3 separate regions of the Homo sapiens genome follow, and all the other regions are reported to be linked to region 3. Evidence: microRNA targets listed by miRTarBase, many of them from high-throughput screens and not tested one by one. Region 3 holds a microRNA gene; each other region holds the end of a gene's coding sequence.

What was found. Region 3 holds the annotated microRNA hsa-miR-6778-3p (UGCCUCCCUGACAUUCCACAG, at 1,561-1,581, opposite strand). A microRNA usually pairs through its seed, bases 2 to 8, with sites in the 3' UTR of a target mRNA and lowers its output. Matches are read on the target gene's strand: a 7mer-m8 pairs with bases 2 to 8, a 7mer-A1 pairs with bases 2 to 7 and ends in A, and an 8mer does both.
Region 1: miRTarBase lists TWSG1 as a target of hsa-miR-6778-3p. Seed matches in the 3' UTR shown: 7mer-m8 at 1,173-1,179.
Region 2: miRTarBase lists ZNF665 as a target of hsa-miR-6778-3p. Seed matches in the 3' UTR shown: 7mer-m8 at 598-604, 7mer-m8 at 733-739, 7mer-m8 at 765-771, 7mer-m8 at 1,703-1,709 and 8mer at 1,869-1,876.

Annotation. Positions count from the first base shown.
Region 1 is chr18:9,399,261-9,402,385 of GRCh38, forward strand. It overlaps TWSG1 (twisted gastrulation BMP signaling modulator 1), which reads left to right. Exons shown (of 5, transcript NM_020648.6): 5 at 86-3,125. The coding sequence ends at 267. Among named protein-coding and RNA genes, the nearest start is that of TWSG1, 66 kb to the left of the region's middle.
Region 2 is chr19:53,161,870-53,164,994 of GRCh38, reverse strand. ZNF665 (zinc finger protein 665) reads left to right here. Exons shown (of 4, transcript NM_024733.5): 4 at 1-2,571. The coding sequence ends at 542. Among named protein-coding and RNA genes, the nearest start is that of ZNF347, 4.4 kb to the right of the region's middle.
Region 3 is chr17:18,339,254-18,342,505 of GRCh38, forward strand. MIR6778 (microRNA 6778) reads right to left here and starts at 1,633; the gene lies at 1,561-1,633. SHMT1 (serine hydroxymethyltransferase 1) reads right to left here. Exons shown (of 12, transcript NM_004169.5): 6 at 1,479-1,560; 7 at 790-1,002.

The sequences.
Region 1 (3,125 bases), not on the chromosome of region 3:
GTTAATATTCAACTAGGTAATAAAGCATTTTATTTTTTTGTTTTTCTTCTTTCTTGCCCTGAAATCTTAAATTTTTGTTTTTCAGAACACATGTGTACTGTGGTTTATTTTGATGACTGCATGTCCATACATCAGTGTAAAATATCCTGTGAGTCCATGGGAGCATCCAAATATCGCTGGTTTCATAATGCCTGCTGCGAGTGCATTGGTCCAGAATGTATTGACTATGGTAGTAAAACTGTCAAATGTATGAACTGCATGTTTTAAAGAAGACAAATGCAAACCAAAGCAACTTAGTAAAATAATAGGTATAAAAAGTTATTCTGTAAGTCTGTTGGTTGTATCTTGTATCAGAATCCCAGTAAGTTAAGTTGTAAAGACTTTGGAATAAGTTTCTTTTAAAAATATGACATAGCCAGTGATGTGTTTAATTATATAACTGTTCTTACTGATTTTATTGCCCCCTAGCAATAAGCCCTTTCCTTTGAATACATGTACAACTTTGGTCATATGAGAAGCAGGTGCGCAGAGAATTCCTTGAAAGATCTGAGGTTTTTAACATGAAGTCTGACGTGGTTTTCCTCTAGCATTCCAAAAGGTTTTTGCTTTGAAAGTGTTAGCAGAAGCATGTTGATGTGAATTATGATTTCTTCATGTGCTACTGTTAGCACACTGAGTTTTTATAGTTGCACATCATTCCTCATTGTGCCTTGTTTTATCCATTTTATAAATAGAGTAGATATTTGATATACCACTCTGATAACTCATATAAAAATATCATCATAAAAAGCTTAATTTCATCCCTTTTATGTTGGTTTTAAAAGGTAAATGCTTACCATATTTTATAATTGAGAACTCTTACATAGTAGAATCCATTCTATAATACATGTGTTGACAAAGCTTTAGAGAAAGTTTCCTATTCTCTTCCATTTCCCCTGCCCAAAGTGCTGACATAGGCAGTGATGAAGAATCTTTACCAAGATTTTCAGGGTGTACCTATGAAATTGCTTTAAATGCACTGCTGGTGTAAATAATTAGCAAGCAAAGCGTTTCTGTGACTTCAGGTACCAGCTTAAAGAGCACTAGGGATGGGGAACGAATGCCAAATCAGACTCCACCTAGAGCACCAGGAAACAGCTTGTACCCTGGTAGGGAAATGGTGTTGCTGAAAGGGGAGGCTGAGCCAGTGCGAGACTGAACTTGTGCAGCCTTAGCCAAGACAAAGCAGTGTTTTTCAGCAGACGGCTGATGGGACAGGAATTGAAGAAGAGAATTGACTCGTATGAACAGGACAGGGTGAAAATGCTGGGAATTATTATGGGAAACAAAACTATCTATGTTCATATTTTGTAATATTTCATTTGTTAAGTTTATATCTGGATATAATGTTCTTTTTAAACAAGTATAATCATATCGTCGGAGGTTAAGATTATGAAATTTTAGAATCTCTATTCAAGATGATGTTCACTCCAAATACACTACAGAATTTAGTCAACATTTTATATAATGTTTCAATAAATGTTTCTTTCAATAAAGATACTATGTGCCCTTCATAGTAATAAAATCTCAATCTTAAAGCATGAATCTAAAACATAAATATTTATATTACAGACTCAATTTTACAAAATTACTAATTGCTCTAGTGCATATTTGAACTACAAGCAACTTTTTAGGAATACCTCTTTATACGTCTACATATTTTAGTATATAAAAATAGATAATGCTCTTGGACACATTTTGTATTATTCATGATCTGAATAGTAGTTAGTTAAAAGATCATTTGTAATATTATGATCAACTGTTATAAATTAAGGTCTTAATACCTTTTCTGCTCTTTCAAATAACTCTAATGAATATTCAAGATATTTTAGCCTTTTAAAAAGTTGAGATTTAGCTCATGGATATATTTTTTGGTAGGGAAACATTAGGGTCTCCTTTTCTTCCTTTTACCTAGAATGCCTCATTTAAAAGTGCCTTGAAAACATTTAGCTCCCCTTCTTCATGAGCATCTGTAGAGCTGAAAGTATTCTGGAACTTTAGACAGAAAGCTGAAAGGAATCTGCAGTCTCCTGCTGCAGTTCAACTCTGCTGTTTTTCAGTCATTTCCTACTGTGAGTGGAGTGATGTTTGTGTGTGTGTTGGCAACATGCCTAATGTTTTCTTAATGATGACAACAAATATTTTAAAACTGCATTTATCATTTTTTAGGTCTTCATTAAATTTTAAAATGTAATATCTGTTTCCCACCCCCTACATTAGGAGGATAATTTCTTAAACCACATTGTTTTAATTGATTTTTCTTATCTTGATTTCTTTCATTAGAAACTATCCCTAAATGTAAAGATCTTTTGCCTTCAAATTTGGCTTATTTTTTCTGATTTATGAGGGTTTGAAAGAAAGAATTCACCTAAAAGATTCCATTTCCAGTTTTATAATGTATTTCAGGTTCTGAATAACAATATTTTTCCAAATTGAAAGTAAATATTCCAGAAGTTGATAGCCTGGTTAAAAGTTAGATCCTCTATTACCATTCTAAGCACATTCACTTCTATATTGAAGTTTTGGTAAAAATTCTTTTTTCTTTTTTAATAAAAAATTAGGTTATTACTTTTTTTATAACCAGATTTTTAAAGCACTAGGTTTTAAATCAGTGGGTATCATAAAAGCCATATATAAAAGATCCTTTCTTATAGTAAGACTTGTGCTTGTTAGCAGGTTTTTCTGTTAGTTTTTCCCCCATAACATTTAATTATTACTAAAATTGTATTTACAATAGTGGTGCCAAATCAAATGGTAATTTAAATAAAATCTATTCTGTGTTTATGTAGGGTGGTATAAAAAAGAGGTCTTCATTTAGACATGTGATTTCTAAAATTCCAGAAAGCAAAATTGATAAGATGTTAGAAATTTGGACCATTATTTATAATCAGGGTAGCATTAAAATGGAGAAAAGAAAGTTTTCTGAAAAAATGCAGTAAATATAAGCCACATTTCTAAAGTTTATTTTTATGAAAGCTTCTTTTAAGATTTTGAAATCTATTCTGCATTCCCAAGAGTTTATGTTTATTGTATTTTATATGATCTACAACATATAAAATTGTGTATTTTTCTTTGGTTGTCCCTAT
Region 2 (3,125 bases), not on the chromosome of region 3:
CACAACTTGCAAGGCATTGGAGAGTTCATACTGGAGAAAAACCTTACAAGTGTAATGAGTGTGGCAAAGCCTTTAGTGTTCATTCAAGCCTAACTATACATCAGACAATACATACTGGACAAAAACCATACAAATGTAATGATTGCGGCAAGGTCTTCAGACACAATTCGTACCTTGCAATTCATCAGAGAATTCACACTGGTGAGAAACCTTATAAGTGTAATGAGTGCGGCAAAGCATTTAGTGTACATTCAAACCTAGCTACCCATCAGGTCATCCATACTGGAGAAAAACCTTACAAATGTAATGAATGTGGCAAGGTCTTCACTCAAAATTCACATCTTGCAAATCATAGAAGAATTCACACTGGAGAAAAACCTTATAGGTGTAATGAGTGTGGGAAAGCCTTCAGTGTTCGTTCAACCCTAACTACCCATATGGCAGTCCATACTGGAGACAAACCTTACAAATGTAACCAATGTGGCAAGGTCTTTACTCAAAATTCAAACCTTGCAAAACATCGAAGAATTCATAGTGGATAGAAACCTTACAAAGGACGCCGGGCGTGGTGGCTCACGCCTGTAATCCCAGCACTTTGGGAGGCCGAGGCGGGGGGATCACCTGAGGTCTCGAGTTCGAGACCAGGCTGGCCAACACGGTGAAACGCTGTCTCTACTAAAAATACAAAAATTAGCTGGGTGTGGTGGTGCACGCCTGTAATCCCAGCTACTCGGGAGGCTGAGGCAGGAGAATCACTTGAACCTGGGAGGCGGAGGTTGCAGTGAGCGAGATCATGCCATTGCACTCCAGCCTGGGCAACAGGAGTGAAACTCCATCTCCAAAAAAAAAAAAAAAAAAAAAGTAACCTTACAAAGGAGTGCGGCCAGTTTTTCAGCCACAAATTCTTTCACAACATCAGAGAATTCATTCTTGAGACAATTCTTACAAATACAGTGACTGTGGCAAACTCCTGATGAGTTTAAGCATTAACAGACATCAGAGTTCAAATCCTGTGAATATACTATGTATGACAGAAGCTTTATCCAGGTCTCAGAGCTCAATACGCATCAAAAGATACATCTTTGATGAAGTCACACAAACGTAACATGCATGCTGAGACTATTACTCCTGGACCACAACTGTAGGTGAGGATTCATAGGAAGAGTAGAACTCAGTCTCTAGTTTCCTCATAACCCTCTGATATTATATACTTCAGCATAATCAGAAGTCCAAATGTGTTAAAACTCATTACATGATACATATCAAAGGTTGTAGGATGTTTGGAAATGGCCAATTACTTTCAGCTTATAAAATGTTTTGTTGAAGTATTTAAGATTTATTGAAAAGGCTACTATTTATAACTTCCAACCAGAACTTTGCAATGTGCTGATTTTATACATGATTATACGCCTAACATGGTGTTGTTCGGGAAAGAATCAAAGGATGGAAGGGCTCACTCACTTCATTAGGTGAGGATTATTTCTCTCCAAGCTCCTGAAGAAAAAAGACTCTGCCTTTTAAAATTAAATATAGTCTGAATTAGAGAGCACTTGGAAAGGGCAGAGGATGATGAACTATGATGTCACTCATCATCCTTATTGCACTGCAGGTGCCCTTCTTCTGACAGAAGAGCACTGTGGGTATGGGAAGAAATTCTCTACTGGCCGGGCACAGTGGCTCACGCCTGTAATGCCAGCACTTTGGGAGGCCAAGGTGGGTGGATCACCTGAGGTCGGGAGTTCGAGACCAGCCTGACCAACATGGAGAAACCCCATCTCTACTAAAAATACAAAATTAGCCAGGCATGGTGGCGCATGCCTGTAATCCCAGCTACTCAGGAGGCTGAGGCAGGAGACTCGCTTGAACCCGGGAGGCAGAGGTTGTGGTGAGCCGAGATCATGCCACTGCACTCCAGTCTGGGCAATAAGAGCGAAACTCTGACTCAAAAAAAGAAAGAAAGAAATTCTCTACCAGTAGACCATGAAATAGAGCCAGGAAGACACTCGGATTTTTATTAGAGGAGAGTAATAGCTTATTAGGGACTGATGTGTGGTACAAATAATGCAGAAAAGTGGAGGCTACCTTCTCCATCAAATGCCAATAGCTGTTGCATAGCAAAGATTGATTTTTTTTTTTTTTTTTGAGATGGAGTCTTGTTCTGTTGCCCAGGCTGGAGTGCAGTGATGCAATCTCAGCTCACCGCAACCTCCGCCTCCTGGGTTTTAGCGATTCTCCTGCCTCAGCCTCCCAAGTAGCTGGGATTACAGACATGCACCACCACGCCTGGCTAATGTTTGTATTTTTAGTAGAGATGGAGTTTCACTATGTTTGCCAGGCTGGTCTCGAACTCCTGACCTCATAATCCGCCCACCTTGGCCTGCCAAAGTGCTGGGATTACGGGCTGGAGCCACCGTGCCCGGCCGGCCGAGCATAAGAAGTTTAATCAAAGTAACCAGAATCCCATGTTTGTTACTAGGATTTACATTAACTGCTGGAATCACATTTTGCTACTATTTAAGAATGCATCATAGATTTAATGTTTTAACTAATAAAATTTGATGTATTTTATAAGTATGAATGAATCATTTCTTGCCAACATAGTTTTATCCTACCTCAGTAGCATACTTCATAACAGATAACAACACTGCACCATTAAGCTATCGAAGGATCTAGAACAATGATTTCCATTGTTGGATCAAACAACATATAATTTTCAGAAACTAAGTGTATTTTGGTTTTTTTGTTTGTTTGTTTGAGATGGAGTTTCATTCTGTCACCCAGGCTGGAGTGCAGTGGCGTGATCTCGGCTCACTGCAACCTCTGTCTCCCGGGTTCAAGCAATTCTCCTGCCTCAGCCTCCCAAGTAGCTGGGATTATAGGTGCCCGTTACCACACCCGGCTAGTTTTTGTATTTTTAGTAGAGACAGGGTTTCACTATGTTGGCCAGGCTGGTCTCGAACTCCTGACCTCAAGTGATCCACCTGCCTTGGCCCCCCCAAAGCTCTGGGATTACAGGTGTGAGCCACCATGCCCAGCCCAGAAACTAATTGTATTTTGTACTTGAATTATTCTCTCCACACTCTGCCTTGGGATACTTATGTGGTATAATGAAAATCCCACAGAAA
Region 3 (3,252 bases):
ACTAAAATGATATTAATGTTTATACATCCATGTCTTCTAGTTTGACTACTATGAGTCTTTCTCTTTGAGAAACATGATGGATCACTGTAAGTTCACCAGAATAATGCAGCCTTGTGAGGCCTCCCAGTGGCCCCCAGCCAGCCATGCACCCTCCTTTCATTCAAACACCTGCCTCTCGAGTTCAGCAACCGGCGCCATCCTAACACATAGTGGTTGCTGATCCCCCTCCTATGTTCCTAGGACCTGGATGCACAAAAGTGAAGCAGGAGCTGTGGCTGACAGTCTCCTTCTGGGGATTCCTTTCTTTCTTTCTTTTTTTTTTTTTGAGACGGCATCTCGCTCTGTCGCCCAGGCTGGAGTACAGTGGCACAATCTCAGCTCACTGCAAGCTCCACCTCCCAGGCTCACGCCATTCTCCTGCCTTCGCCTCCTGAGTAGCTGGGACTACAGGTGCCCACCACCACACTCGGCTAATTTTTCGTGTTTTTAGTAGAGACGGGGTTTCACCGTGTTAGCCAGGATGGTCTTGATCTCCTGACCTCGTGATCTGCCCGCTTCGGCCTCCCAAAGTGCTGGGATTACAGGCGCGAGCCACCTCACCTGGCCGGGAATCCTTTCTGTAAAGCCTGTCACTGCTCCTTCCTAAGCAGCTCTTTAAGGGACTGGGATCTTAATATTTTCCAAGGATCCCAGGTCAGAGTTTTTCCCAGCTCCCTCAACTGAATCTGAACCCCCACAGGAGAAATGTAAACCATGGTACCCATCTGTACCCAACATTCGGGAGCTCACCTTTCCTGTAGAAGATCATGCCAGCTCGGCAGCCTCGCAGGGTCTTGTGAGTGGTGGTGGTCACCACATGGCAGTGTTCAAATGGGGAGGGCACCACGCCAGCCGCCACCAGCCCGCTGATGTGAGCCATGTCCGCCATGAGATACGCCCCGTTCTCATCTGCAATCTTCCGTAGCCGGGCATATTCCAGGTTTCGGGAGTAGCAGCTGGTTCCTGAGACAGGAAAGGTGACACAGCTGCATCAGAGATGTCCACCGGCCAGCTGAGTTGGCTTCACAGTGGCCTCTAGATGTGCAGATCTGAAAGCCCAGAGATTTCTTCCCTTAAAGTCTCAGAGCAAAAATGGAGAATGCCCTCAAAAAGCACCTCTGTGCTAAAGGCAACCACTCTAACTCTTCAACGTCTTGGTGGTTGAGATGGCCCCAACTACTATTGCCAGCGCAGTCAGGGCCTGACATTTCTAGATGCTTCTCTGAGAACAGTCTCACATCTTAATCTACATAGCACAAAAAGCAGCAAACACACATCTGTATCCTGAAAGAAACTAATATATGTAGACCCCAGAAACTCAGTTATCCAGGGCAGAAACTAGCAGTGGGCTCAACAGGGTGCGAACATCTTTCCATCCTCATTCTGTAAGAGGCACCAGGCTACTGGTGAACAAGGTGACTTTCCGCCCCGCGCATCACCTGCGATGATCAGCTTCGGGTGGAAGAGGCGTGCGTTCTCCTCCAGCTGGTCATAGTTGATGTAGCCAGTATCTGGGTTCACCTGTGGAATGTCAGGGAGGCAGGTTCAGGCTGCTTCCTCCAACCACACCTGCCTCCTGTCCTCCCACTTGAACTGGCTCCACCCACCATGACAAGAGGAATGATGTCCTAGATGAGGACTTGAGGGTGAGACAGGATGGATACTGGTGTGTTCAGCCTGCTCAACCAAGTATGGCTCACAGACCCAGGAGTCCCTGAGGAGTCCCAGGGTTGTAGTGAGCCCTGCTGCTGGGGCACTACCTGCTGAGAAGGAACCAAAAAGCACCTGCAGAATGAAACAAATGTGACGGGACCACACAATGGAAACCAAAATGGTTACCTTCAGGAACAAGACCAAAATGCCTGCTAATACTACTTCTATTCCAAGTATAATGAGGCAAGAAAAAGAAACAAAAGGCATAACGATTAGGAAAGAAGAAATTTAAAAACTGACATTACACACAGACAACACAATATACCTAGAAAATCAAGATGCTAGGGGCCAACTGTTAGAATAAGCAAATTTAGCAAGGTCACTGGATACAACATTGAAAAACAAGAAGTAGGGGCTGGGCGCGGTGGCTCACACCTGTAATCCCAGCACTTTGGGAGGCTGAGACGGGCAGATCATGAGGTCAGGAGATCGAGACCATCCTGGCTAACACGGTGAAACCCCGTCTCTACTAAAAATGCAAAAAATTAGCCAGATATGGTGGCGGGCGCCTGTAATCCCAGCTACTTGGGAGGCTGAGGCAGGAGAATGGCGTGAACCCGGGAGGTGGAGCTTGCAGTGAGCCGAGATTGTGCCACTGCACTCCAGCACTCCAGCCTGGGCAACAGAGCGAGACTCCATCTGAAAAAAAAAAAAAAAAAAAGCCAAAAAGTATATAAAAGCAAGAAAGATAGAAAATGAAATGTAAATAACAAAAACCATAAAAGGAAAATCATACCAAACCTTTACACAAAACATCATTGCGTTGTGTATTTTGTGTCACAAAATGCTTGACAAATTATAGTAATTAAGGCAGCACGCATTCATGGAAGGGCAGAGCATCTGGCTTAACCAGAAGCAGAACCACACACAACACAGGTCATTGGATCCATGCCAGTGGTGACGCTGCAGTGCAGTGGGGAGAGGATGACCTTTTCAATCAATGGCACTAGGTCAACTGGGCATCCATTTGGACAAAAATGTTATCTGGATGCCCGCCTCACCCACACAAATCAATTCCATATTCAGCAATCCCACTTGTGAATCTATATCTTAAGAACTTGAAATCAGTATGTCAAAGAGACATGTGCACTCCCATGTTCACTGCAGCACTATTCACAATAGCCAAGTTATGGAATAAAGCCATGTCCATCAACAGATGAATGGACAAAGGAAATGTGACACATATATATATAAACAATGTAATAATAATCAGTCTGAAAAAAGAAATTCTGTCATTTGCAACAACACCGATGAACTTGGAGGACCTTATGCTAAGTGAAATACGCCAGGCTCAGACAGACAAATACTGCATGATCTCACTTCTTTTTTGAGACAGAGTCTCACTCTGTCACCCAGGCTGGAGTGCGGTGGTGCCATCTCGGCTCATTGCAACCTCTACCTCCCAGGCTCAAGCGATTCTCCCACTCAGCCTGCTGAATAGCTGGGACCACAGGCAGTGCCACCACACCCGGCTAATTCTTATATTTTTGTAGAGATGGG